Linked DNA regions of Homo sapiens: all the other regions are linked to region 2. The links come from fine-mapping of genetic effects on plasma protein levels. A gene starts in region 2. Each other region holds a variant in brackets. All regions are shown on one strand. Distances are from middle to middle.

Region 1 (8,620 bases), 90 kb before region 2:
CTTGTCAATTTTTGTTTTTGTTGCAATTGCTTTTGAGGACTTAGTCATAAATTCTTTCCTAAGGCTGATGTCCTGAATGGTATTTCCTAGGTTTTCTTCTAGGATTCTAATAGTTAGAGGTCTTATGTTTCAATCTTTAATCTATCTTGAGTTAATTTTTCAGAGATCATATTCTTATTACTTTCCTCCACATCTGTTTTTTCTCCCCATCCTGATAGATTATTTCTAGCATCTTCTCAGATCCTTTTCTCTTTCTCAAATATTTCTCCCAAACATTCTGCTTATGTCAAGAATGCTTTCAGTTCCTCTAGGAGCTTAGGTTTTAGAAACTAACATTAAAAAAGAAACCCTTTGTTCATGCTTTTCATCCTTTACCTCCCTCCTCCAAAGCATTTAGCACACAATGACTCAACAGGTTGATGACAAAAATTGACATTTTCTAAAGAAAAAAAGAGAGTGTACTAGATCAAGAAATGTTATCCCATCACATAGTTATTAATATTTATTTTACTTTGTGGGGTTGGGTTGGCTTCAGTTTGTGTGTTTTTGTAACCATCCAGATGACAGTGATGGCAGTGTCAACCCCAAAGATTTTGGGAATCCTATAAAATAAAGCAAACCGGAGGGTTTTTCTTGACATTTTTTTCAATCGATATGTCTTAGTTGTCCATATTTTTCAGGTACATGTAATATTTTGATATGTGTGTATAAGGTATAATCATCATATCAGGATAATTGGGATATCTAACACCTCAAACATTTATCTTTTCTTTGTGTTGGGAATATTACAATTTTTCTCTTATAGGTGTTTTGAAATATAAATTATGATTCACTTCTTACTGTAGTATCAAATACTAGAATTTGTTCTTCTACTTAACTGTATTTTTGTATTAATCAAAGGCATTTTTATGTCATATTAAAACAGAAGTTAAGGATCTTCAGAGAAATGCTCTCTACCATGACACTATTTTTTGAATGATAAATGAGGATTATTTAACAATGAGCCCTAATTCATTTTGAAAAACAATTAGTACTAAATATCAGAAAAACGTATGAATTATACATAGTAAATATTATCTTCTGTATTTGTAGTGTAAACTGAGACACCAAAAAGTAACTCACCCCGAGTTTAGTGGCTGACCTAGTGGCCGACGTGTTTTAACATTTATATGCAGGTTTCTGCTATGCACCTAGCACTATTCTAAGCACTGTCCCTGAAATCATTTTCGAATTTGTGTGTAATATGACACTCATTGCAATTTTTAAAGGACTTTTTCACATTGGAAGGGGTAAAGTAATTTTCCCAGGGACTGTAGAAAACTGACATTATAATCCTGAGTTTTATTTCACCATATTGTTTCTTATAAATGTCTGTCCACCAATGTGTTAAAAATGGGCTCAGCAGAGTATGTGGGATATAACAATAAAATATATTTTTAGTATTTCCCAAAATTAGATCACTGTCATATTTAAGTGAATGATTCTTTTATTATATTAATCATTGCAGGTTTTAGAGCTGTAAACTGTCAACCGCATTACAGAATGATGAGACTCATTTGTTGATTCTCTGCCCATGAAATCTCCAGTTGATACACAAATGCCAGACTCAGCATTTCTCCTTCTCCCAGAGATAGGCTAGTTCTTGAAGGTCATTTTTTTTGTGTAGACTTTCTGTAATTCATTTGCTCAGAGTATACTTTTCAATGGACATAGTTCACTCCTTGTTGATTAGAGTTGTAGAGTATTTGCTGTCTGCCTGAGTTTTGCAAATTATCAGTGGTAAAGGATTAAAGTGTAAACATAAGGTCAATGGCCTTCAAAGTGGTGGATGGGCTGATATTACAGTTTAAAAATATTTAAATACATTTATTCTTTAATATATTGAAGGATTTCTACAGGGCATATTTTTTAGGCAACAGAAATGAACTATGATCAGAGGCGATTCTAAAGTGTAAGGTGTTGGATCTTCTATATCTTAAATTTTGAAAGTACTATGAATGAATGGAAGTACATATTGCTTATTATTCTATTAAGCTATCACAGTCTCCTATCTTAGATTAGAGATTTTTTTGGTGTGTCTTTGCTTTTAATTTGCAAAATCCGTGTAAGGAATTAATGTGCATATTAATATTTTTGTGCTTCACAAAGGCTTAAAATTGTTTTTTTTTTCTTTTTTTAAATTATACTTTAAGTTCTGGGGTACATGTGCAGAATGTGCAGGTTTGTTACGCAGGTTTACATCTGCCATGGTGGTTTGCTGAACCCATCAACCCCTCACCTACATTAGGTATTTCGCCTAATGTTATCCCTCCCCTAGCCCCAAACTCCTTGACAGGCCCTGGTGTGTGATGTTCCCTTCCGTGTGTCCATGTGTTCTCATTGTTCAACTCCCACTTATGAGTGAGAACATGCAGTTTCTGGTTTTCTGTTCTTGTGGTAGTTTGCTGAGAATGATGGTTTCCAGCTTCATCCATGTCCCTGCAAAGGACATGAACTCATCCTTTTTATGGCTGCATAGTATTCCATGGTGTGTATGTGCCACATTTTCTTTATCTAGTCTATCACTGATGGACATTTGGGTTAGCTCCAAGTCTTTGCTCTAGTGAATAGTGCCACAATAAACATATGTGTGCATGTGTCTTTGTAGTAGAATGATTTATAATCCTTTGGGTATATACCAAGTAATGGGATTGCTGGGTCAAATGGTATTTCTAGTTCGAGATCCTTGAGGAATCGCCACACTGTCTTCCACTATGGTTGAACTAATTTACACTCCCGCCAACAGTGTAAAAGCATTCCTATTTCTCAACATCCTCTCCAGCATCTCTTGTTTCCTGACTTTTTAATGATCACCATACTAACTGACATGAGATGGTATCTCATTGTGGTTCTGATTTGCATTTCTCTAATGACCAGTGATGATGAGCTTTTTAATAGCTTGTTGGCTGCAAATATGTCTTCTTTTGAGAAGTGTCTGTTCATATTCTTTCCCACTTTTTGATGGGGTTGTTTGTTTTTTCTTGTACATTTATTTAAGTTCTTTGTAGATTCTGGATATTGCCCTTCATCAGATGGATAGATTGCAAAAATTTTCTCCAATTCTGTAGGTTGTCTGTTCATTCTGATGATGATTTCTTTTGCTGTGCAGAAGCTCTTTAGTTTAATTAGATCCCATTTGTCAATTTTGGCTTCTCTTGTCATTGCTTTTGGTGTTTTAGACATGAAGTCGTTACCCATGCCTATGTCCTGAATGGTATTGCCTAGATTTTCTTCTAGGAATTTTATGGTTTTAGGTCTTACGTTTAAGTCTTTAATCCATCTTGAGTTAATTTTTGTATAAGATGTAAGGAGTTTCTGCATATGCCTAACCAGTAAAACTGTTTTTAAAACAATGTAAAATCTCAAGAAAGATTTTGAGTTAACTCTTTGTCCAAATCAAACACAACTGGAAATCTATCTTGTTCTCTGCACAGATTATTTAAATCTTAGTGTCAAGATACATAGGCACCAATATATATATCACCAAGATAGGTATTATGTCTCTAAATCAGAGTGTGATGTGATTATCCAGTAATGGTTCATGGGGATAACCAAGTGATAGTAGAAAAAAAAAATTAATTTGGAACTCAGTAGGACTGCAAATAAGTAAAAATGGAAGCCTGGAAACTGAAAACAAATTCAAATTAAGTTTTCCTATCAAGGTAAACTTAGTTTTTATTTTGTTTCATATATGTATGACCAATTAATAATAACTTAGTGAGTTTGCCCCATATGTTTCACCATATATTTAGCTCTCTTAAGTACTGTTGGTGACAAATAAATAAAATAACTGGGAATTTATGGCCCCTGCTGTCTTTAAAGTGCTTATAAGTTAGTTATAGAATAATAATAACATTCCTAACTCTGCTGCTAACCAGCAACATTACATTGCATAAGTGTCTGAGTCTACTTTTCTAGACTTGTACATCACAGATGCTCCTGATTTTCCTCTTACATTTCACCTTCTCCTTTTCACTGGCTTCCTCTGGCCTCCCCTCCACCCTCAGACTTCTAAATGTAGAATGGAAGTTTCCGCCCTCAGCACTCATCTCTTTCCTGTCTACATTTTCCTCCTGGGTGATCAGATGATCTCTTTGAATACTATCTATGTACTAATTTTTTTCGAATTTTTATCCTTTGCCAGAAGTCCTCCCTTGAATTCTAGATTCATATATTACACAACATCACATTTTTACCAGGATGTCTAACAAGTATTTCAAACTTAACAAGGCCAAACAGAACTAGTAACTACCTTCCTTAAGCCTAGTGTATATCCTCCCATTTCCCCCTTTCCATGTACCCCCCATTCCCAGTCTTTTCCATTTCCGTAAATGGTGACAACATTTTCTCAGTTGTTTAGGTCAAAACCTGAGTCATTACTGAATCTTTTTCTTTCTTACATTTCACACCTAATTTTTCAGTAATTACTGGCAGTGCTACTCACAAAACATATTCAGAATGAAAACATTTTCAGAATATTCAGACCACTGCTGACCACTTTGTATGCTATTACCAGCATTCAGATCTCAATGAGAGTGTTACTTCCTCAGACAGCCCTTCTCTGACACCCTCAGGAAAGCTGTAGTCCTTCACTATCATACTCACTCTCAGTACCTGATTTTATTATCATCTTCAACTTATCA[G/A]TACATGGAAGGTTTATTTATTTACTTGTTAATTTGCTGTCTTCTGCACTGGAATGTAAACTCTTTCAGGTCAAAGAATATGTACAGTCTATTCAATGTTGAATCCCCAGCACTTAGAATAGAGACTGGCACACGGTAAGTAATCAAAAAAATTTGCTGATGGTTTGGTTAACTGGCCTTTATATTTTAATCTGTAAAACAAAGGGAATGAAACCAATGATCTCTAAGGACTTTTCTAGGCCTAAGATTCTTTTCTATTCTCTTAATACTGGATTGGTTTGAATAATGAGGATAGCAAAATGTCCAAGTTGTACCCATTTTCTAAGACCTAGTTAAGTCACATCTCTAACCACTTGGACCCATAGATCTTTCTTCCTTCCTGCGTGAACAACCATAGAGTCTCTGTGGGTTAGTTCATGGCTAGCCAAATACCTTTGCCTTATTAGTTAAGTGCGCTTGCATGCATATTTGTAATTGCAATTTCACTTGAACACTTTTGAAGTAAGACCCTGTGCTTGTCCCCCCTGCTTTTTCTTATAGCATTAATGATAACACTAGTTAAAATTCACTGAGTGTCAATATGAGGCAGGCAATGTTTATACTTGATGAGCATTAACTAATTTAATTTTTACAGCTACCCCATAAATTAAGATTATTATTTATTCTCAAGAGAGAAAATCAAGGCATAGCATGTTGAAGTACCTTACCCACACAACTAGTAAGAAGTGGAGCTGGTATTCAAACTTGAGAAGTCTAATTCCAAACTAGTGCTCTTAATCAATACACGATAATATTTCATGTGGTACCTAGCTCAGACACTAGAAATATGTGGGAAATAGAACAGACACTAGATATTCATTTGAGTGAGCTCGGTGAATAAATAAGAAATAGATAAAAATGTGCAGCGGTAGTTCTATGAAGTGACTGTATATCTCACCCAGAAAATCTCTAGGTAATTACTGGAAAGACTCTCATTCTCATGAATACCTGGTTTTATTCTGACTGCTGCCTTCACATGGCTTGCATTTTTGTATTTATCATTCCACTTCACTCTGCTTCTGCTTAATCCAGCAGTTTTGTATCTGAGCAACCATCTGTCTTTAAACAAATTCCACAGATGTAATCATCAGTACAGCTAAACCAAAAACAAATTCAAACCTAATCTTCCCAGAAGAGCAGAACTTGGTGTAGGTTAGAAAGACTTTAAGTGTTTTAAAGAGTATTCTTTTTACCTGTTTTCTAGCAGTGATGAAGTAATAAGTAAAAAGAATGTCAGTTAAAATATAAAATAAAGCTTTGTGTGGCTGTTTAAAAAATTGTAGAATAGGCCAGATGCGGTGGCTTACGCCTGTAATCCCAGCACTTTGGAAGGCTAAGGTGTGTGGACCACCTGAGGTCAGGAGTTCAAGACTAGCCTGGCCAACATGGTGAAACCCCCGTCTCTACTAAAAATACAAAAATTAGCGGGGCCTGTCATCCCAGCTGCTCAGGAGGCTGAGGCAGGAGAATCGCTTGAACCTGGGAGGCCGAGGTTGCAGGGAGCCGGAATCACACCATTGCACTCCAGCCTGGGTGACAAGAGCAAGACTCAGTCTCAAGAAAAAAGAAATGGTAGAATAAAGCAATATGAAATAGTAGATTTCATCTTGGATTTATTGTGAGACTCTGAAATTAGAACTAGTCATGGATGTTTCTCATTCCCAACATGGTTGCCAGTGTCTGTTTTCTTCTTCGGCATGTACTGCCCCATGTACTAATGATCTGTTTTGCTGCTGTGGGTTACAGGAAAGGTACAAAGAAGCCCTTATGACACTTAGAAAGCCTATTTAAGATAAGCAAATAATAAAGCACCAGACAAAAAGGGTACACCCTCATCTCAGGTCGCAATTCAATTTCCCTCCTCTCCCAAATTTTCTATTGCCAATAGCAATGAATGTAGCTTTGTCAACATAATAATAGTTTTGAGGGACTATCAGAGAATAGTTGTCCTAATTTTTTGAAAGGCATTATAGGATATATATATCTTGAATGCCTCTTTGCTGTTTTGTTCACTAGCTATTGACCTTGGGCAAGTTACTTAATCTTAGCTACTTTATGTTAACCTCAGTTTCCTCAATTGTAAAATGCAATAATGACAATGCTATTCTAGTAAGAGTACCAGAGAAGCAAATATGCCACTGCTGGTAAAGCGCTGCTGAGAACAGGGACTGGCATGTTTGAAGGCATTTTATAAGTGCTTGTTAAACAAACAGGGCATCCCCTGCTGTCCTCTTTCCCCTCACACACTCAGGGATTCAGTAGAGTTAATATAGTTCTAATACAAAATAAATACACTTAAGATTTTAGTGTTTGCAGCTTTATAATGAATAAATGCAAAATTTCTATTATTGTTATTTTCAACTACTATTGGCAACAAACTCATGGACTTTTACTGTACTTTCATGGATATCAAGGAGTTGATGGACATCAGACTGGAAGTGGCTTATTTGTTCATTTATTTATTCATTTATTCATTCAGTCAACAAATATTTATAGAGCACTTGCTACATGCTGGGAATGTATGTGATTACTTATGTGAATCTTAAATTTGCTAGAGATGGGGATATAGCAATCTTTGTTTTTTCATAATACAATCACTTGGAAATTTTTTACTCACTGAATTTAATTCATAGGTTTAATTACTATCTACTGTCTAGTACTGAACTGAGATTTTGTAAAGAATACAGTGAATAGGGAAAATGTTTACTCTTATAAAATGATTACAATTTAATAAAATCTTATAAATTCAAGAGATGTAACTAAGAATGAAAACAAAGTAATACAGGTCATCAGAAGACAGTGAGAAGAATGTAAGCCTGGGAAAAGAGAAGGTCTGGAGGTGTGCTCTGGAGATGGGAAGATTTAGATAGATACAAAGCAGGGGAAATCATCATGGTGGGAGAAAGCCCAATAAGCAGAGATTTGTGTCTGAAAATGAACATGACCCCCTGGGAAAAAGGAAGATGGCCTCATAGCACCTTGCACATCTTCTCATCTAGTATGGCATTTAATACCTTGTAGGCTTGCAAAAAATGTTACAGGGAGTATAACTGAGTTAATGGGAAAATTTATTCATGAAAGAGAATAACAGATTATATTATGGAGATCATTTCTTCACATATTTGTTCATTTGTCTACTCACCTGTTTAACAGACATTGAACACACATGCGCCAGTCATCTGCTAGCCACTGGGGATACTGCTGTGATGGAGAAAGACAGAGCTTCTGCTTTCAGGGACATTATAAACTAGTGGAATCAGATTACAGAGTATGTTGCTTTTTTTTTTTTTTTTAAATTTGGAGACAGGGTCTTGCTTTGTTGCCAGGCTGGAGTGCAGTGGCATGATTATAGCTCACCGCAGACTTAAACTCCTGGGCTCAAGAAATCTCCCACCTCAGGCTTCTGAGCAGCTGAGACTACAGGTGTGCACCACCACATCTGGGCAATTTATTTATTTATTTATTTTTGTACAGACAGGATCTCACTTTATTGTCCAGGCTAGTATCAATCTCCTGGGCTCAAGCAATCCTCCCAGTTTGGCCTTTCACAGTGTTGGGATTACAGGTCTGAGCCACCTTGTCCAGATGGATTACAGAACATTTTGAATACCAAAGCAAGAAGCTTGGCATTTATTTAAAATGTAATGGGGAACCAATAAAATATCTTAAGGAGAGGAAAGTTTTGGTATTAATCAGAGTAGATAGGGACTAGAAATATGATCATTAATTCAGAGTTTATTGTAATAACTCAGGTGTGATTTGGTGAGAGCCTGAACCAAACTGGCCTCAGTGCCCTGGTGAGTAAGAATAAATGTGAAAATGGGTCAAAACAATTTAACTAACAGATAGATCAAAACTGTTTAGGGACATATTGGATACTTGAAGTTAAAGAGAAGAAA
Region 2 (8,620 bases):
TCCCCCAGAGTTGTTGGGGTCTGGGAGTGAGTCCCAGTGCATAGTAACCCCATGCAGGGTTCTCGGCTTCCTCCCACTTCAGCCCAGCTTCTGTGTCTTTCCTCTGTCCACTCTCAGTGCCTTCCCCCTGAAGATCTGTTAGGAGTGTGCCAGTCATCTCAGTCCCTCAGGGAAGGCTGTTCCACCTGGCTGTGTCTAGTAGGAAGTCTTGCCCAGCCAAATCTTCATGCAAAGTCTTTAAAAATTTGTTTATGTAGTTGAATTTATTTTGCATTATAATTAGGACAGTTTTTCCCTCATCACTTATCTTTCTTCTGGTACTTCTATAATTTCTCTTTTTTTAATTTCTACATTTGGATCTCTGATCTTTTTAGAAGTATATTACTGTACAGATAGGCTAAAATTTGGATCAAATGTTAGACTTTCATTTTGTTGTATCTGCATATTGCCCATATCATCACACTGTTTTAACTATTATGATGTTTTTAGAATGTGTGCCTCAATAGCTTTCTTTTTTCCTGAATTATGAATAATTATGAATTATTGTTTTTGTTGCTCAGGTATATCTGATTAGTCTTGATTGTTATTCTTGCTCATGTAGTCTTCAGTTAATGGAATAATGGCCCAGCCTCTCAGTCCTCTGTCAGGATGATTCTAGGGCATCTTCCACTTCCCAGACAGTTCTGAACAAGCTTACATCCCAGTTGCCTACACTATTATTGTTCTCATTAACACCTGAATTATTGGCTGCTTTTCTCCCTTTTTGGTCCTACTTCCTCACTGTGCCTCCTCCAGTTGCCTTCCATATAAAGTACAAGTCTTTCCCTAGAGGTCTGCTTTTGGGAAATCCAAACTAAGAAAGAGTCATTTTTGGATTTTGACCTAGATGTAAAAGATATCAAACATTGTTACCCAAGTATGTTATATATTTGTGTGTGGTGGTAGAGAAAGAGAGGAGGAAGTAATGTGCTGTCCTAATTTAGCTGTTCAGAATATAAGGTTTTAGCTTCTTCTCCTGATTATTTCCCCATGGCCCATATCGGTTCTTTATGTTCTTTAGACTTGAAACAGTTCTGGAATGCTCTTGGGAAGAATGAATGTCATCTCCCAAGATTTGGGTTGAAGCTTGCTCTTATCTATTTTCTCCATTAACTTGATTCCATCTGTTTTATAGTTTCCAGGATTTTCTCAAGCTTTTCATATACTGCTGGCTTCTTCTCTTTCTTTCTTCAGTGTATGGATGTATATGTATGTATGTATGTATGTATACTGTTGAAGCAAAATTTGACGTATTTACTGAAGAAAATTTAAAAATACTTTACTCATTAATGAAGGGGTCAGTAATTAGATCATTTGAGGCAAATACACAAAATAACCAGGAAGAAAATTAGCTTAAATACATTAAGTTTCTAAGTAGGCACATACTGCTATTTCACTTCATATGGCCATAAAAATATCCCATGCTTATTAATGGTAGGGAGGACTAAATTTGTGGAATAGATGAATTAGAGCTATTTTCTACTTGCCAGATGTCAACCAGTAATTGGAAATAAGAAGTACCATATCTGAGAAGAAAATAAAAAGTGAATGGATCTCTGACTACCAATTGAATATACTTAGCAACAGTTTTGGTCTTTTTAATCATCTGACAAAAGGCAATTAGAACAGAGGCAACAATGAGAGGACAGCACAATTAGGACATTTCACTAACTGCAAGCAAAGATGCTGACCATACTGTTACATAATTCTGTTTGGAGACAAAATCGATCTCTCAGTCTCCCTGTCTGTCTCTCTTTTATCTCTCTCATTCCCTTTCTTTGGTTTAGTGAGTCTGTCCACCCTGCCATTTTCTACACATCACATATAAAATTTTGTATTCTACTGTTTTACCAAAAGTCATTTAGTAAATATTTCCTCTGATATGACATATTTTTAATATTCATTAGATTTAAAGACAAATAAGAATCCATAGAGTGACTATATCATTGTTTATGTATTCACCTGCAAAGATGTGTTTTGCACTTTTAAATTAATGAGTGACTTGTGAAGTGATATTTTGAAAGTATAAATATGCTATTCCTCAATAATTATTCACCTATGACTTTATCATTCTTTCATGAAACTGGCCTAAATCAGCTATTACTATGGTGGTTACAAATGTTTATGCTTTGTTTCTAACTACAATTATTAGTTGGCATTCTTCTGTAGAGAAGAACTTTCCTTTCCCAATTTTTAATTTTGTATTGGTATAGGTTCATGAATTTAAAAAAATTCCTGTGTTATAATATATTCCAGTAATTATTTATTTTAATTATCAAGTTCTCATCGGCTTCCATTGCATTTAAAAAACTCTTTTTACTTTAAAGGCCTGGTGTGGTGGCTCATGCCTGTAATCCCAGCACTTTGGGAGGCTGAGGTGGACGGATCACAGGGTCTGGAGATCAAGACCATCCTGGCTAACACAGTAAAACCCCATCTCAACTAAAAATACAAAAAATATCCTGGCATGGTGGGGTGCACCTGTAATCCCAGCTACTCAGGAAGCTGTAGTAGGAGAATCGCTTGGACCCGGGAGGCAGAGGTTGCAGTGAGACACGATCACGCCACTGCACTCCAGCCTGGGTGACAGAGTGAGACTGTCTCAAAAAAAAAGGTAATAAAAAATATATATATTTAAGGCGTGCAAGATGATGTTTTGAATACATATACATAGTGACTTGAGTACTACAGCCAAGCTAATCAACGCATCCGTCTCTTGACGTATTTTATTTATTTATTTATTTTTGAGACAGAGTCTTGCTCTGTCCCCCAAGCTGGAGTGCAGTGCGCGATCTCGGCTCACTGCAACCTCTGCCTCCCAGGTTTAAGTGATTCTCATGCCTCAGTCACCTGAGTAGCTGGGATTACAGGCGCATGCCACCACTCCCAGCTAATTTTTGTAGAGACAGGGTTTTGCCATGTTGGCGCAGGTTGGTCTTGACCTCCTGGCCTCAAGAGATCCACCTGCCTCGGCTTCCCAAAGTGCTGGCATTACAGGTGTGAGCCACCACGCCCAGCCAGTTATCTATTTTTTTTTCTTTTAAGACAGTGTGAATTCTTAAGACCTAGTCTCTTAGCATATTCTAAGCATACAATACAGTATTATTAGCTGTAGTCCATGTGATGCATTTGAACTTACTCATTCTACGTAACTGAAACTTTGCACCCTTTGACAAGCATCTCCCCATTTCCTCTACCTCCTGCCCTTGATAACCACCATTTTATGCTCTGTTTCTAGTTTGATTTTTTAGATTCCACATATAAGTAGGATTATGCAGTGCTTTTCTTTCTGTGTCTGATTTATTTCACTTAACATGATGTTCTCCAGGTTCATCCACATATTCTCATATGGCAGAATTTCCTTCTTTTTAAAGATTAAATAGTATTCCATTGTGTGTGTGTGTGTGTGTGTGTGCGTGTGAGATTTATTTATTTATTTAGTTTTTTATATGTTGACTGACAGGTTGTTTTCATATTTTGGCTATTGTGAATAATGAGGTAATAAACACCGAAGTGCAGGTATATCTTCTTAATTTTTTATTTTTAATTTTTGTGAGTACATAGTAGGCGTACATATTTATATATCTTTGAGATACTGATTTCACTTCCTTTGGATATATATGCATAAGAGAGATTGCTTGATTATATCTGTTCTGGCCCTTTGTTCCTTTAACATTTGCAGTATTTTAAGTTTTTTTTTGGTTGTCTATTTGATTAAGTATTGTGCATACTTAGCCTGTGGACTTTTGTTCCAACTCAGTAGATTTTTTCCAGCGAAACACAAAGGTAATTTTTTTTTCTGGTTAATATTTAGCAAGAATTCTGCAGAGTGATCAAAAAAATCAAATACTCAGTATTTCAGAAATAGATTAAATAGGTTACTTTTTTACTGATAATGTGAAAGAATGATATAAAAACTTGATTTTCCTCAACAACATTACTTTCTTTTGTAAATGTGGTTTCTACAAAGATGAAACTACTAAAACTTACAGGTTTTATTTTTTTCTTGTTTTTTTTGACTGAATCCCTAACCCTGCCCACACAACCTCGGGATATAGGTAAGAAATTTACTTGTATATCAGCTAAAGCATGACCAGTTAGGATAATTTCTATTTTTAAAATTTTGTTTTCTTTCAAGTTAATTCTTTACTTGCTTTTTTCACCCTCTCACTAATTTACATAGGCTAACCAGTTATCCAAAACTAACCTTTTCAGAATTTTTATTTTGATGGTAATTTTTATATTACCAAGTCTATATGAAGAAAGAGTTGTCACATCTGAAGAATAATCAGCAGTCTATGACAGGACAGAAAGTGTTGCTGGGAGATACATTTGGATTTTAATGTTGGTATTTCTTGCATATATGTATAGTTTATGGTAACAGTGGAACAATAGATGTTAACTGGGATTTTTCTGGAACCTTTGGTTGTCCAACATATTTCCCAACTATATCTTTATGGAATGCAGAACCTAGTTCCTCCTTCAACTGTACAGTTTGAACATCCCTCCTGAGCCTGGCCAAGGCCATCTCAGTCTGTAGGAAGGGATGACTTTTTTTATTTCTTCCATCCAAAGGGGAAATATTTTGAACCTCATATGTCTAGAGGAGGTGTCTTTTTCTAATCCTTTTTGGCCTAGAAGGAGCTCCTTTCTTTGACTTGAACAAATGTGCCCTAAGCATGGCAGTGGCCCTGAAGGCATGGATCGTGTCTTACGTGTCTTACTCAATTTGACATGCCCCTACAATACCAGCTAGTGAAGACTGGTCATTTCTGAGTTTTCCTGCTCCTTTTCCCTCGTAACAACCTGTTTCAAAATCTTGATTTTTTGCCTCTTTAATATCTTTTGTATCTATATTTTCCTTTTCATTTCCATTACTCCTACCAAAATTTAGATCTTGCTGATTTCTCAGTGTGACAGTTGCAAAGTCTCCTATGGCCTTCTTACTTTGTCCCATCCACCCTTCTTTTGCCCATTTATTTGACAATAGTTCTTTCTACCTTTTTCTATTTGTCTGGCACTGTGGAAAGTCCCATGACATTACATATACCACTACCTGACTCGTATTTCTTAGTGTATAGAAATGATCAGATTACTATCCTATATAAACATTTTCCAGGGCTCTCCATGTCTTCCAAATGAAGCCCATACTCCTTAGCTTTATATACAAGACTCCTATAATCTGGGCCCAGGTTCTTTCTATCCTAGGTACCATTATTCCTCTTTGTGACCCACTTTCTCATCAAAATAGATTGACTTTCCCTAAATACTTCTCAAGATTTCTTAATGCATTTATTCACATCATTCTCTCTCCACACAGACAGACAGGGTTTTTCATTTTTCCGTCAGCTGAATCTCTTACATTTACTCATGCTCAACTCATATCTCACTCCTCCTATAATCCTTTTTTTTCTTTCTTTCTCACCCAGGATTCATAAAGCATTCCCAACTTAATCCCATTCTAAATTAGATTATTGTCACATGCACGAGTAACTTCTATTAGAGAGCAGCTTAGGAACCTGATGTCAAGGGGAGATATTTTAGTCATTGTTGATTGCTTCACAGGGTCCAGCACAACACTTTGCAAAAAATAAATGTAGCTTATGTGAACAAACATAAATATGCTCCAATTAGTGTATGCTCATTGGGAGGGAATCCATGATTTTAGGTGGATCTGGAGATGACCTAAATAGCTGTGACTGAGTAGCGCTAAAAACTATGCTGACCACCAGCATGCTACAGCATCTCTCATCAGGCTCTGTTATGGCATTGAATCAGCCATTAGTTAATCTTCATATCACTTCTCTAGTCATAAATGATAGACATTTAGCATGGTAATGTATTTGACATTTCTATCTGGGGAGCCATCAATGGCAAATTTAAAGTCTAGTCAGATTAAGATTTATTTAGGTCAATTCAATTTGGTAAATATTTCTTGAACACATAATCAACAATGACTAAGATTTCCTATTTTGTTCACATGACTTATTTGTTTCTTGTTAAATATGCAAAATTATCTCCTGTCATCAGTGGTCTATTTTGTATTTTATACACTTAAATGCCATGTATAGTTATTTATTTGAAAAATGTTAGAAAACCATGCTATGTAATAACCTAAATATTCTTGCTTTTCAGAGAACTTCAATAGTACTCAAAAATTTATAGAAGATAATATTGAATACATGTGAGTTGTGCTAAATACTTTTTGATGATGATTTTTAAAATGATATATTCTAGAAATGTTAATGCTTCTCAAAAGTAATTTAACTAAATAGAAGCCATATCCAAGAAGACAACTTTAATTATAAAATTCAGGCAAAGAAGTTGTAAAATTTATAGCCATTACAATAGATAATTTCCTGAGGCTAGTCAGGATGTTCCTGTGACTTTTTCTTGACCATAAATGGAAACTCTGCAACTGATCTTTGTATACCCCATGTGAACTGTTGCAGCACCATCATTGCATTTGCTCAGTATGTTCAGGAAGCAACCTTTGAAGAAATGGAAAAGCTGGTGAAAGACATGGTAGAATACAAAGACAGATGTATGGCTGACAAGACGCTCCCAGAGTGTTCAAAATTACCTGTAAGTAAATTGCTTGTGTTTCTTTTCCTTTTATCTTATGTCTTTCTTTCTCTTTCTTTCTTTCTTTCTTTCTTTCTTTCTTTCTTTCTTTCTTTCTTTCTTTCTTTCTTTCTTTCATTCTTTCTTTCTTCTTTCTTTCTTTCTTTCCTTCTTTTTTTTTTCTTGAAACAGAGTCTCGCTCTGTCACCCAGGCTGGAGTGCAGTGGCAATCTTGGCTCACTGCAACCTCCACTTCCTGGGTTCAGGCAATTCTCATGCCTCAGTCTCCCTAGTAGCTGGGATCACAGGCATGCACCACCATGCCCAGCTAATTTTTTTGTATTTTTAGTAGAGATGAGGTTTTGCCATGTTGACCAGCCTGGTCTCAAACTCCTGACCCCAAGTGATCCTCCCAACTTGGCCTCCCAAAGTGTTGGGATTGCAGGCGTGAGCCACTGTGCCCTGCCAATTGCTTGTGTTTCTTAAACACACAAGATTTTTTGCCCAACACTGAGAAAATTTCTGGCTTGAAAATATGAAATGAAAGATGTTCTGTGCGCAGCATTTTCATTTTGCTTAATTTTGGTATTTAGAACAAGGTACTTTCCTTGGAAAAGATACTAATTCTGTATTTTGATGCACAGAAGGAGATTGCTGTGTATTTGCAGTATGTATACAGTATGCCCTATATGTTCAGGCAGAAGAGGAAGCCATAGCTTGAAACTGCACATGAAATTACAGAGGTACCTCCTTAGCTGCCTCTCTCAATATGTATTCTATTGTTACATCCCTTTTCTGGGCCTCCTCCAAGTAGAATCACTATCTGCATCTCCAAAAAACTACTACTAAACACTACTTCTAAACACTCTACCAATACATTAACATACCAGCATGTCATCACCTTGGGAGGTGAGTAGAAAAGCCTGGTGGAAGGGAAATGTAGGCAGCAAGGGAAGAGTAAGAGGTGGAAGTGTCTTGTGACAAGACAGAGGAACAAAGATTCTGAAAGTGCAGGATGATTGTCAAGGGTTTGGGTAAAAATGCTTTGATTTGGCACACCTGTTCTCCCAGCTATTTAGGACACTTTGGCTGGAGGATCACTTGAGCCCAGGAGTTCGAATCTAGCCTGCACAACATATCAAGATCCCATTCCAAAGAAGAAGCAGAAAACAAGGAGAAGGAGAAGGAGGAGAAGGAGAAGGAGAAAGAGAAGGAGAAGGAGAAGAGGAAGAGGAAGAGGAAGAGGAAGAAGAAGAAGAAAAAGAAGAGGAAGAAGAAGAAGAAGGGGAGGAGGAGGAGGAGGAGGAGGTGGAAGAGAAGGAGGGGGGGAAGGGAAGGAGAAGGGGAAGGGGAAGGGGAAGGAGAGGAGTAGGAGAAAGAGAAGGAGCTCTGTTGGTAATGGTGGGAAAATTAGTCATTGTGTTTTCTCAGTGAGTACAGAAGCTTTACTTTACCATGACTAAAAATTGTCCTTTTCTTCTCTGTTGTATAGAATAATGTTTTACAGGAAAAAATATGTGCTATGGAGGGGCTGCCACAAAAGCATAATTTCTCACACTGCTGCAGTAAGGTTGATGCTCAAAGAAGACTCTGTTTCTTCTATAACAAGAAATCTGATGTGGGATTTCTGCCTCCTTTCCCTACCCTGGATCCCGAAGAGAAATGCCAGGCTTATGAAAGTAACAGAGAATCCCTTTTAAATCAGTAAGTTTAATCTTAGTAAAAAATGATCCAGTTGAAGAATTAGTCTTAGGCTGAATCTAATATCTATCTCAAATAAATATGGCTGGGTTCATTAATTTATTGATTAATTGTTTCATTCATTCAAAACATACTGTGTGTCAGATACTGTGCTCAGTGTTCAGGATATAACTATGATCAAGATATGGACCCTGCTTACAAGACCATTATATTAACGAATTTTATCTTCTAATTGGTAAGTCCTAGAGCAGAGGTGTGTACATGGTGTTAAATTGGTAGGATGCACAGTAGAGGAAATAATATACTCTTCCCAAGG
Region 3 (8,620 bases), 430 kb before region 2:
TAAATGTTTTGGTTTCTCAATTTATATAAAAGTTATGTTTACACTATGTTGGACTCTATTAAATGTGCAATTGCAGTATGTCTTAAAACTATGAACATACTTTAATTTAAAAATACTTTATTGTGGCTGGCAGTGGCTCATGCCTGTAATCCCAACACTTTGGGAGGTGGAGGTGGGCAGATCATGAGGTCAGGATATCGAGATCATCCTGTCCAACATGGTGAAACCCCGTCTCTACTAAAAATACAAAAAATAGCTAGGGGTGGTGGTGCGTGCCTGTAGTCCCAGCTACTCGGGAGGCTGAGGCAGGAGAATCGCTTGAACCCAGGAGGCAGAGGTTGCAGTGAGCCGAGATCACGGCACTGCATTCCAGCCTGGCGACAGAGTGAGACTCTGTCTCAAAGCAAAAAACAAACAAACAAACAAAAAAACCCCAATTTATTGCTCAAAAATGCTAACAATCATCTGACTCTTTAGTGAGTTGTAATCTTTTTGCTGGTAGAGGGTCTTGCCTTGATGTTGATGGCTGCTGATTCCTCAGGGTGGCGGTTGCTGAAGGTTGGGGTGGCTGTGGCAATTTCTGCATCATTTTTGCAGTGACTTTCTCTACTTAAGTTTGAATCCCTTGAAGCCGCCCATGAGGATTAGAATCAATTTCTTCCAAACTTCTGTTAATGTTTATATCTTGACTTCCTCCCATGAATCACAAATATTCTTTTTGGCATCAAGAATGGTGAATTCTTTTCAGAAGGGTTTAAATGTACTTTTCCCTGATCCATCAGAGGAATGACTATCTATGGCAGCTTTAGCCTTACAAAATGTATCTCTTAAATATGACTTAAAGTTGAAATTACTCCTTGATATATGGGCTACAGAATGGATACTGTGTTAGCAGGCATGAAAACATTAATGTCCTTGTACATCTCCATCAGAGCTCTTGGGTGAGCAGGTACACTGTCAAAGAGCAATAATATTTGAAAGGAATCTTTTTTTTGAGCACGAGGTCTCAACCATGGGCTTTAAATAGTAAACTCTGCTGTAAAGAGATGTGCTGTCATACCGGCTTCGTTGTTTCATTTACAGAGCACAGGCAGAATGGATTTAGCATCATTCTTAAGGGCTTAGGATTTTTCAGAATGGTACATCAGCGTTGGCTTCAACTGAAAGTCACCAGCTGCATTAGTCCGTAGTATGAGTCAGCCTGTCCTTGGACGCTTTGAAGCCAGGCATTGACTTCTCCTCTCTGGCTATCAAAATCCTAGATGGCACGTTCTTCCACTAGAAGGCTGTTTTATCTACATTGAAAATCTTTTGTTCAGTGTAGTCACTTTCATCTGTCATCTTAGGTAGATACTCTGGAGAACTTGCTGCAGTTTCTACATTAGCACTTGCTGCTGCACTTGCACTATTATGTTATGGAGACTTCTTTCCTTAAACCTCATGTACCTACCTCGGCTGGCTTCCAAGTTTTCTTCTGCAGCTTTCTCACCTCTCTCAGCCTTCACAGAATTGAAGAGAGTTGGGCCTTGCTCTAGATTAAGCTTTAGTTTAAGGGAATGTTGTGGCTGGTTTAAACTTCTATCCAGAGCATTAAAACTTTCTCCATGTCAGCAATCCAGCTGTTTTGCTTTCCTGTCATTTGTGCATTCACTGGAGTAGCACTTTTAATGTCCTTCAAGAACCTTTCCTTTGCATTCACAATGTGGCTGTTTGGCACAAGAGGTCTAGCTTTCAGTTCATCTTGGGTTTTGACATGCCTTCCGATTTAAAATGAGATATGTCGGTCTTCCTTTCACTTAAACACTTAAGAGTCCACTGTAAGGTTATTAATTGGCCTAATTTAAACATTGTTATGTCTCAGTGAATAAGGAGGCCCAAGGAGAGGGAAAGGGATGGGGGAATGGCCGGTACTGGGGCAGTGAGAACATACACGACGTTTATGGATTAAGTTCACTAGTCTTATAGGGGTATGTTTCATGACACCACAAAACAATGATCATAGTAATATCAAAGATCACTGATCGAGCTAGACATGGTAGCCCACACCTGTATTCCCAGCACTTTAGGATGCTGAGGTGGCAGGATCACTTGAGGCCACAACTTGGAGACCAGTCCAGGTAATATAGGGAGACCCCATCGCTACAAAAAATATATATACATATATAGTTTATTTTAAAAAATAAAAAAATAAACACTAAGATCTCTGATCACAGATCACCATAACAGATATAATAATGAAAAAGTGTGAAATATTGCAAGAGTTGCCAAAATGTGACACAGAGACACAAAGTGAGCACATGATACTGGAAAAAATGGGGCTGATAGACTTGCTTGAAGCAGGGTTGGCACAATCCCTTAATGTGTAAAAAGCACAATATCTGTGAAACACACGAAAGCAAAGTGCAATATAAGGTATGCCTGTATATAAAATAAACATACATAGATACTATACATATAAATGTGCATATATGTATATATTAACGTCTTCAAATAGAAACACACAAAGAACAAAGCTATGTATTAATTCATTAACATGGAACTCACAGCCAACAGCATTATAACTCACTCCTATAATATGTAAATAATGAGGATTGACTGCATTTTAAGTAAAATAACACATTATCACATAGATATAGAGTATAAGTTCCAATAATTCATCTGTAAGTCTTTCTCTCTGTTGGGGAGGGGATTAGAAATAAAGATGAGGAAGAAGATATTTCATTTTAAGATTGTATTTTGTTGCGAGTTTAATTTTAAATGGGAACTTGTTTTTGTTTGGACCACAAAACAGAACATTTAACATCTGTACTCAAAAACAATATTGATAAGCATAACTGAAGCTTCTATAATAAACTTTACAAGAAGAAAATTTCTTACTTTTAGCAGCCCACGAAATAAATTTTAAATAGCATAGAAGAAGCTGCAAATTCTCCCTATAGGTACAGATTTTATATTTTTAGTATGTCCACCCTCAGAGGCATCCATCATTCACTGAAAATCCAGGAAACTTGAGGTTTGTGGCAATAAAAGTGACTCTATATTGGATGCTAATCTGCCATGTTGACTTCTAATTAACCCCAGTCCTAAAGACGCCTCCTGAGTCCTATTTTATTTACTGTCCTTAGTGTAAGAACATGCCGGCCATTAGATCCAAGCAACCTTGATGTTATCACACAAATTATAGGCTATGACCACATAGCAGTCTTGCCTCTTCTGGAGGTTTGCCTTTAACTGTCTCTATACAGCATGTACACCCTTTCCTTATGGTATAAAAGCCCTGGGTCTGGGGAGTATTGATGCAGAGGCCTACCTGTCTTGCTGCTGCCCAAGACCATGCTTCCATCTCTAAGTTCCCCAGTAAATCATCCTTTACTGCAAACTGGTTTTGTCTGCCTTGTTCTTTGGTTCCTTGGGTCCTTCTGCATTTGGGGGCTGCTTTGTGCATGTGGCCCTTTCACAGAAGCTTATAATTAGAAAAAAATTCTTCAAATTATTAATTGTGCAACAGTTGGAACATGCAGATATACAAAAACACAAATGCTATCAAATGAATATAGTAAGGTATATTTCATATTCCATTTTTATGTTGTCCTGCAGAGCTATAATTTTCCCAAAAGACAAAAATCAAAGCTAAATTAAATACAATACTGCCTTCCCAATTCCCAGTTAAGGCAAAACAAATGTATTAAGAATTGCCTCATCAGAGGTACAAAGAGAGGGAAGCATGCCTGTGAAATCTCAAAATGGAAAAGAGAAATTGGTCATTTTCCAAAGTGGCCTCTTTCTAATGAAATTCTAGCAGAGATCTTCAAGGATAGAAATTTGGGCCAGGTGTTGGGGCCAGAACAGGAGTTCAAAACCAGCCTGGACAATGTAGCAAGACTCCATCTCTACAAAAAATTTTAGAAATTAGCTGGGAATGGTGGCATGCACCTGTAGTCTCAGGTACTCAGGAGGCTGAGACAGGAGGATTGCTTTAGCCCAGGAATTCAAAGTTGCAGTGAGCTAAAACTGCACCATAGCACTCCAGCCTGGGTGACCAAGTGAAAATCTGTGTTCCAAAAAACAAACAAACAAACAAACAAAGGATAGAAATTTATCTTTTGTTGCCTTAGAATAATTCAATAGGAATGGTTGAGGTTGCTTTCTTGAAGCACTGATTTTTATTTCAGGTCTTTCCATTGATGCGTTTGTTCTAAAACACAAAAAAAGTCCTTATTTTATAAAACAAAACCAGCAGTATAGGACTAGGCAATTGAAAGTAAGGCTACCTTGCAACACTTACCTAAACACCGGTCAATAAAGAAGGTAGTCAGTTGTAGAACACAAGGAAACATGGTCCCTCTGTTACTCACGCTTTGGGTAAAGTTTTGTCTCCCTCAAGTTCAAGTTACAGCCCTCCAAAAATTTAGTGTTGTGAGAAGTAGGCAAGGCCTGTTAGGAAAGTGCTTCCTTAGTTTTAATATAG[T/C]TGATTAACAAAACTTGAAAATTTTCTAGCTGTTCCTTGCCTGCTATTTGTTTTTCCTTTTCTTGTGCTATCAGCCAGACCTTGTGGTTCTTTTTTTTTAAGACAGGGTCTCACTCCTGTTGTCCAGGCTGGAATGCAATGCAGTTGGAGTTACCTGGTTCACTGCAATCTCTGCCTCCCAGGTTCAATTGATTCTCCTACATCAGCTTCCTGAGTAGCTGGAATTACAGGCATGTGCCACCACACCTGGCTTATTTTTGTATTTTTAGTAGAGATGGTGTTTCACCATTTTGGCCAGGCTGGTCTCGAACTCCTGACCTCAAGTAATCCACCCACCTCAGCCTCCCAAAGTGCTGGGATTACAGGCAGTGAGCCACTGCACCCTGCCAACCTTGTGGTTCCTATGGATGTATATCAACCAGGATCAAAATGCTTTTATACGTAGTGTTTTTTTTTTTTTTTCTCTGAGACATTGTCTCACTCTTTTGCCCAGGCTGGAGTGCAGTGGCATGATTTTGGCTCAATGCAACCTCTGCCACTCGGATTCAAGCAATTCTCCTACCTCAGCCTCCCAAGTAGCTGGGATTATAGGCACGTGCCACCATGCCTGGCTAATTTTTGTATTTTTAGTAGAGACGAGGTTTCACCATGTTGGCCAGGATGGTCTCCATCTCTTGACCTCGTGATCCGCCCGCCTCGGCCTCCCAAAGTGCTGGGATTACAGGTGTAAGCCACCGCACCCGGCCTTATATATAGTTCTTAATTGGGATTGTGGAGGGACTTAGTTGAAACAGATATGAAGGCTAGGCTTTCTGAGCATGGGGATAGAGAACTGTGGAGAAAGAGGATCCTCTTTTGGTGGAACTAATCCTTTTCCTTAGGGGCAATCTCTAAAGCCAGATTAAAAAATTAGTTTATCAAAATTTTGGCTTTGGGTTGATCCTAATTTCCACAATCTTAAAAGAAAATTTTCAAAAAGATGTAAAATATCTCCAATAGATTTCTTCAATATCTTTCTCTTGGTGGTAATAAGCAGCGCAAACTAATATACCTACTAAACATAATTATTTACTAAAAGTTTTTTAAAAATGCATTATTAACAGCAATATAATTACTACATAAAGTTCAAAATTTCTAATAATTCCTTTTGCTTTTGGATTGTATTCCACTAATGGTTTTCAGTGGTTGGTTCAGCTATTGGTTGTTCACGAGTCACCCAATAGCTCCCTCTCTGTGGCTGTTAGTCCTTACCTGATGAACAGTTTAGTTCAGTTTCAGTTTGCTTTATTCGTTGGCATCCTAGCAGCTGTCATTTAGAAGCTCTTACAACATTATGGCTTTCAGGTGTGGAGAGAGGAGGGTCTACTCTATTTTGAGATGATAAAAAGCACTCAAATAGGCCCAGTGCGGTGGCTAACGCCTGTAATCCCAGCACTTTGGGGGGGGCCAACGTGGGCAGATCACTTGAGGTCAGGAGTTTGAGACCAGCCTGGCCAAATGGCGGAACCCCGTCTCTACTAAAAATACAAAAATTAGCTGGGCATGGTGGTGCATGCCTGTGGTCTCAGCTACACAGGAGGCTGAGGCAGGAGAATCGCTTGAACCTGGGAGGCAGAGGGTGCAGTGAGCCAAGATTGCGCCACTCAAAAACAAACCAACAAACAAAAAACCAAATGGCTGTCTTCAAAATTATGTACAATTTTATTTTGAAACTATGTGATCCATCTAGAATGTTGAATACATAATTATAAACAGGATTCACACGCATGCTCTCTTGCTGATTAATTTTTCACCTATGATTTAATTTCTATTAAGATTAAAATATACTGTCATATACTCAGTAATTGTTCTTAAAATTTGCTAAATCCTTTAGCAAAGCTTTTCAAAGAGCAAGCTTTTTAAATTTATCTTGCTTTTTCTTTTTTTTTTTTTTTTTTTTTTTTTTTTTGAGACGGAGTCTCGTTCTGTCGCCCAGGCGGGAGTGCTGTGGCGCGATCTCCGCTCACTGCAAGCTCCGCCTTCCGGGTTCAAGCCATTCTCCTGCCTCAGCCTCCCGAGTAAGCTGGGACTACAGGCGCCCGCCACTGCGCCCGGCTAATTTTTTGTATTTTTAGTAGAGACGGGGTTTCACCGTGGTCTCGATCTCCTGACCTCGTGATCCGCCCGCCTCGGCCTCCCAAAGTGCTGGGATTACTTGCTTTTTCTAAGCTATGAACTTTTAAATTTTATAAGGTTCTCAGATCAACTTAATCTTGTTTCGTTATACTAAGTGTTTTCTGTTGCTTTTAACAGAATATCTGAAACTGGATAATTTATAAAGGAAATGAATTTATTTCTTATAGCTATGGAGGCTGAGAAGCCCAAGATCAAGGGGGTACAACTAGTGAGAGCCTTCTTGCTAGTGGGGACTCTGAAGAGCCCTGAGGCAGTGCCTGGTACCACATGGTGAGGGGGATGTGCATGCTTAAGTGCTAGCTCAGGTCTCTCTTCCTCTCCTTGTAAAGACACCAGCTCTGCTCCCATTATAACCCATTAATCCATAAGCCAATTGATCCATTTATGAGAAGAGAGCCCTCATGATCCAATCACCATGTAATGGCCCCATGCCTCTCAATACTGCCACACTGGAGATCAAGTTCCAACATGAGTTTTGAAAAAGACATTCAAACCGTACCATCAAGGTTTACCCATCTAAGGGATTCTCCCACTTAGCATTAGCTGCATCACACTAGTAGTTTTTAATTATTATTATATTTTTTTAGAGAGTCTCATTCTGTCACCCAGGCTGGAGTGCAGTGGCGTGATCTCGGCTCACTGCGACCTCCACCTCCTGGGTTCAACGATTCGCTTTTTACTTTCTTAAGAGTTATCAAGGAGATATTGAATCTTCATATTCCATATCACTAGCAGAAGAATACACGTAAATTCAGGGTCTTCAGGGCTTTGCTTAAACTGTACATAGATCAAATTCTTACTTATATAGTTGTATTTTTATTTTTATATAAATTTATATTCTTATTTTAGTTGTATACACAGTACAGAACCACAGCGTTCCAGAAACTTTTGGGTAAATAAAATTATCTGACTTTAATGCTGTGGCTTTAGGAAATTCCAACTTCCCAAAACCAAATGATTTCATAAAATACCATCACAGTGTATGAAAAAAAGAAAACAGATAACTAGAAAATATCCATTATTACAAGTTTAAACAACACTAATAAGGTTCAAATGGAAAATCTATAAATTCATATAATTTCCAATTATCTGGGTTCTGCTTGAACCAGCTCGTAAGGCACAGTGTTTATAATGATAATGCATTGTTTTACACCATATTTACATGAAGATTTAGCTTTAATACAGAAATCTAAATTCTTGCATGGTTTCAGATGTTATGCCTGAAATTCCAAAGTCTGCATTCTGTAGTAGCTGCAGTTAACACCCCAGAGGAAAAAATAAACTACATTCTTTAATTTTTTTTCTAGGGTCTGCATTCCTACTGCTTCTGGGACTTAAATCTGACATATAGGCAATTTTAAAGGTGACTCCTAAAAAAAAAAAAAAGGTGATTCCTGGGATTCTTAGAAGAATAAAATATGAAGGTATAAGTGTGATTTAAGAATAGGTGCAAAATATAAGCAGATTATGCGTCCAATAAAAAAAAAATAGGAACAAAACACAGAAGGTACCAAGGTTTTTTTGGGCACTCATTTTTTCACACTAACTACAATTTTCCCAATGTCATCTAGGAGGACCTCTGTACCTCCTCTGAGATGTGAACTGTGGGAAAACATTTTAAATGGTCCATTTTCAAGGCATGATAAATCTAAGCACTGGCAGCCAGCCTTGGTATGTAACAAACCGCACTGCTCATGCACCTAGAAGGTCACAATAAACGAACAGAATGTAGAGGAGGAGTCAGCCCATAAAAGGGAAGAAAGTTTCGTTATTGGGAAATCAAAACTTAAGGGGGGAAGGGAATGGGGTATATAACCTTACAAGGGGGATAATGAAACTTACGCGATGTCTGGGAAGACTGTAATCCCATAGTACTTAACCAATCAGAAACTGGGGGAAGGACTTGTGTGCTAGGAGATAAATTACCTGCTGTAACTGCCCCAGGTGTGCCTGCCCACCAGACACCCAATCTTGCAA

Alleles and levels. Alleles are on the strand shown, and positions count from the first base shown. The strength of an association depends on the size of the effect and on how common the allele is.
As copies of G replace A in region 1, the plasma level of the protein whose gene starts at base 3,979 in region 2 goes up (moderate association).
In carriers of allele C in region 3, the plasma level of the protein whose gene starts at base 3,979 in region 2 tends to be lower than with T alone (weak association).

The links. PIP is the chance, under the fine-mapping model, that this variant and not a neighbour inherited with it causes the effect. Protein levels are from antibody-based Olink assays in UK Biobank. Linkage for the fine-mapping came from a reference panel and not from the study's own genotypes, which makes the PIPs less certain.
Region 1: its variant is fine-mapped to the plasma level of the AFM protein (UK Biobank, PIP above 0.99).
Region 3: its variant is fine-mapped to the plasma level of the AFM protein (UK Biobank, PIP above 0.99).

What each region holds. Positions count from the first base shown.
Region 1 is chr4:73,387,394-73,396,013 of GRCh38, forward strand. No RefSeq gene overlaps it. Among named protein-coding and RNA genes, the nearest start is that of ALB, 13 kb to the right of the region's middle. The variant G/A (reference allele first, on the strand shown) is at 4,683.
Region 2 is chr4:73,477,767-73,486,386 of GRCh38, forward strand. It overlaps AFM (afamin), which reads left to right and starts at 3,979. Exons shown (of 15, transcript NM_001133.2): 1 at 3,979-4,097; 2 at 6,175-6,223; 3 at 6,492-6,624; 4 at 8,096-8,307. The coding sequence starts at 4,010.
Region 3 is chr4:73,044,923-73,053,542 of GRCh38, forward strand. It overlaps COX18 (cytochrome c oxidase assembly factor COX18), which reads right to left. Exons shown (of 6, transcript NM_001297732.2): 6 at 7,440-8,620. Among named protein-coding and RNA genes, the nearest start is that of COX18, 20 kb to the right of the region's middle. The variant T/C (reference allele first, on the strand shown) is at 4,469.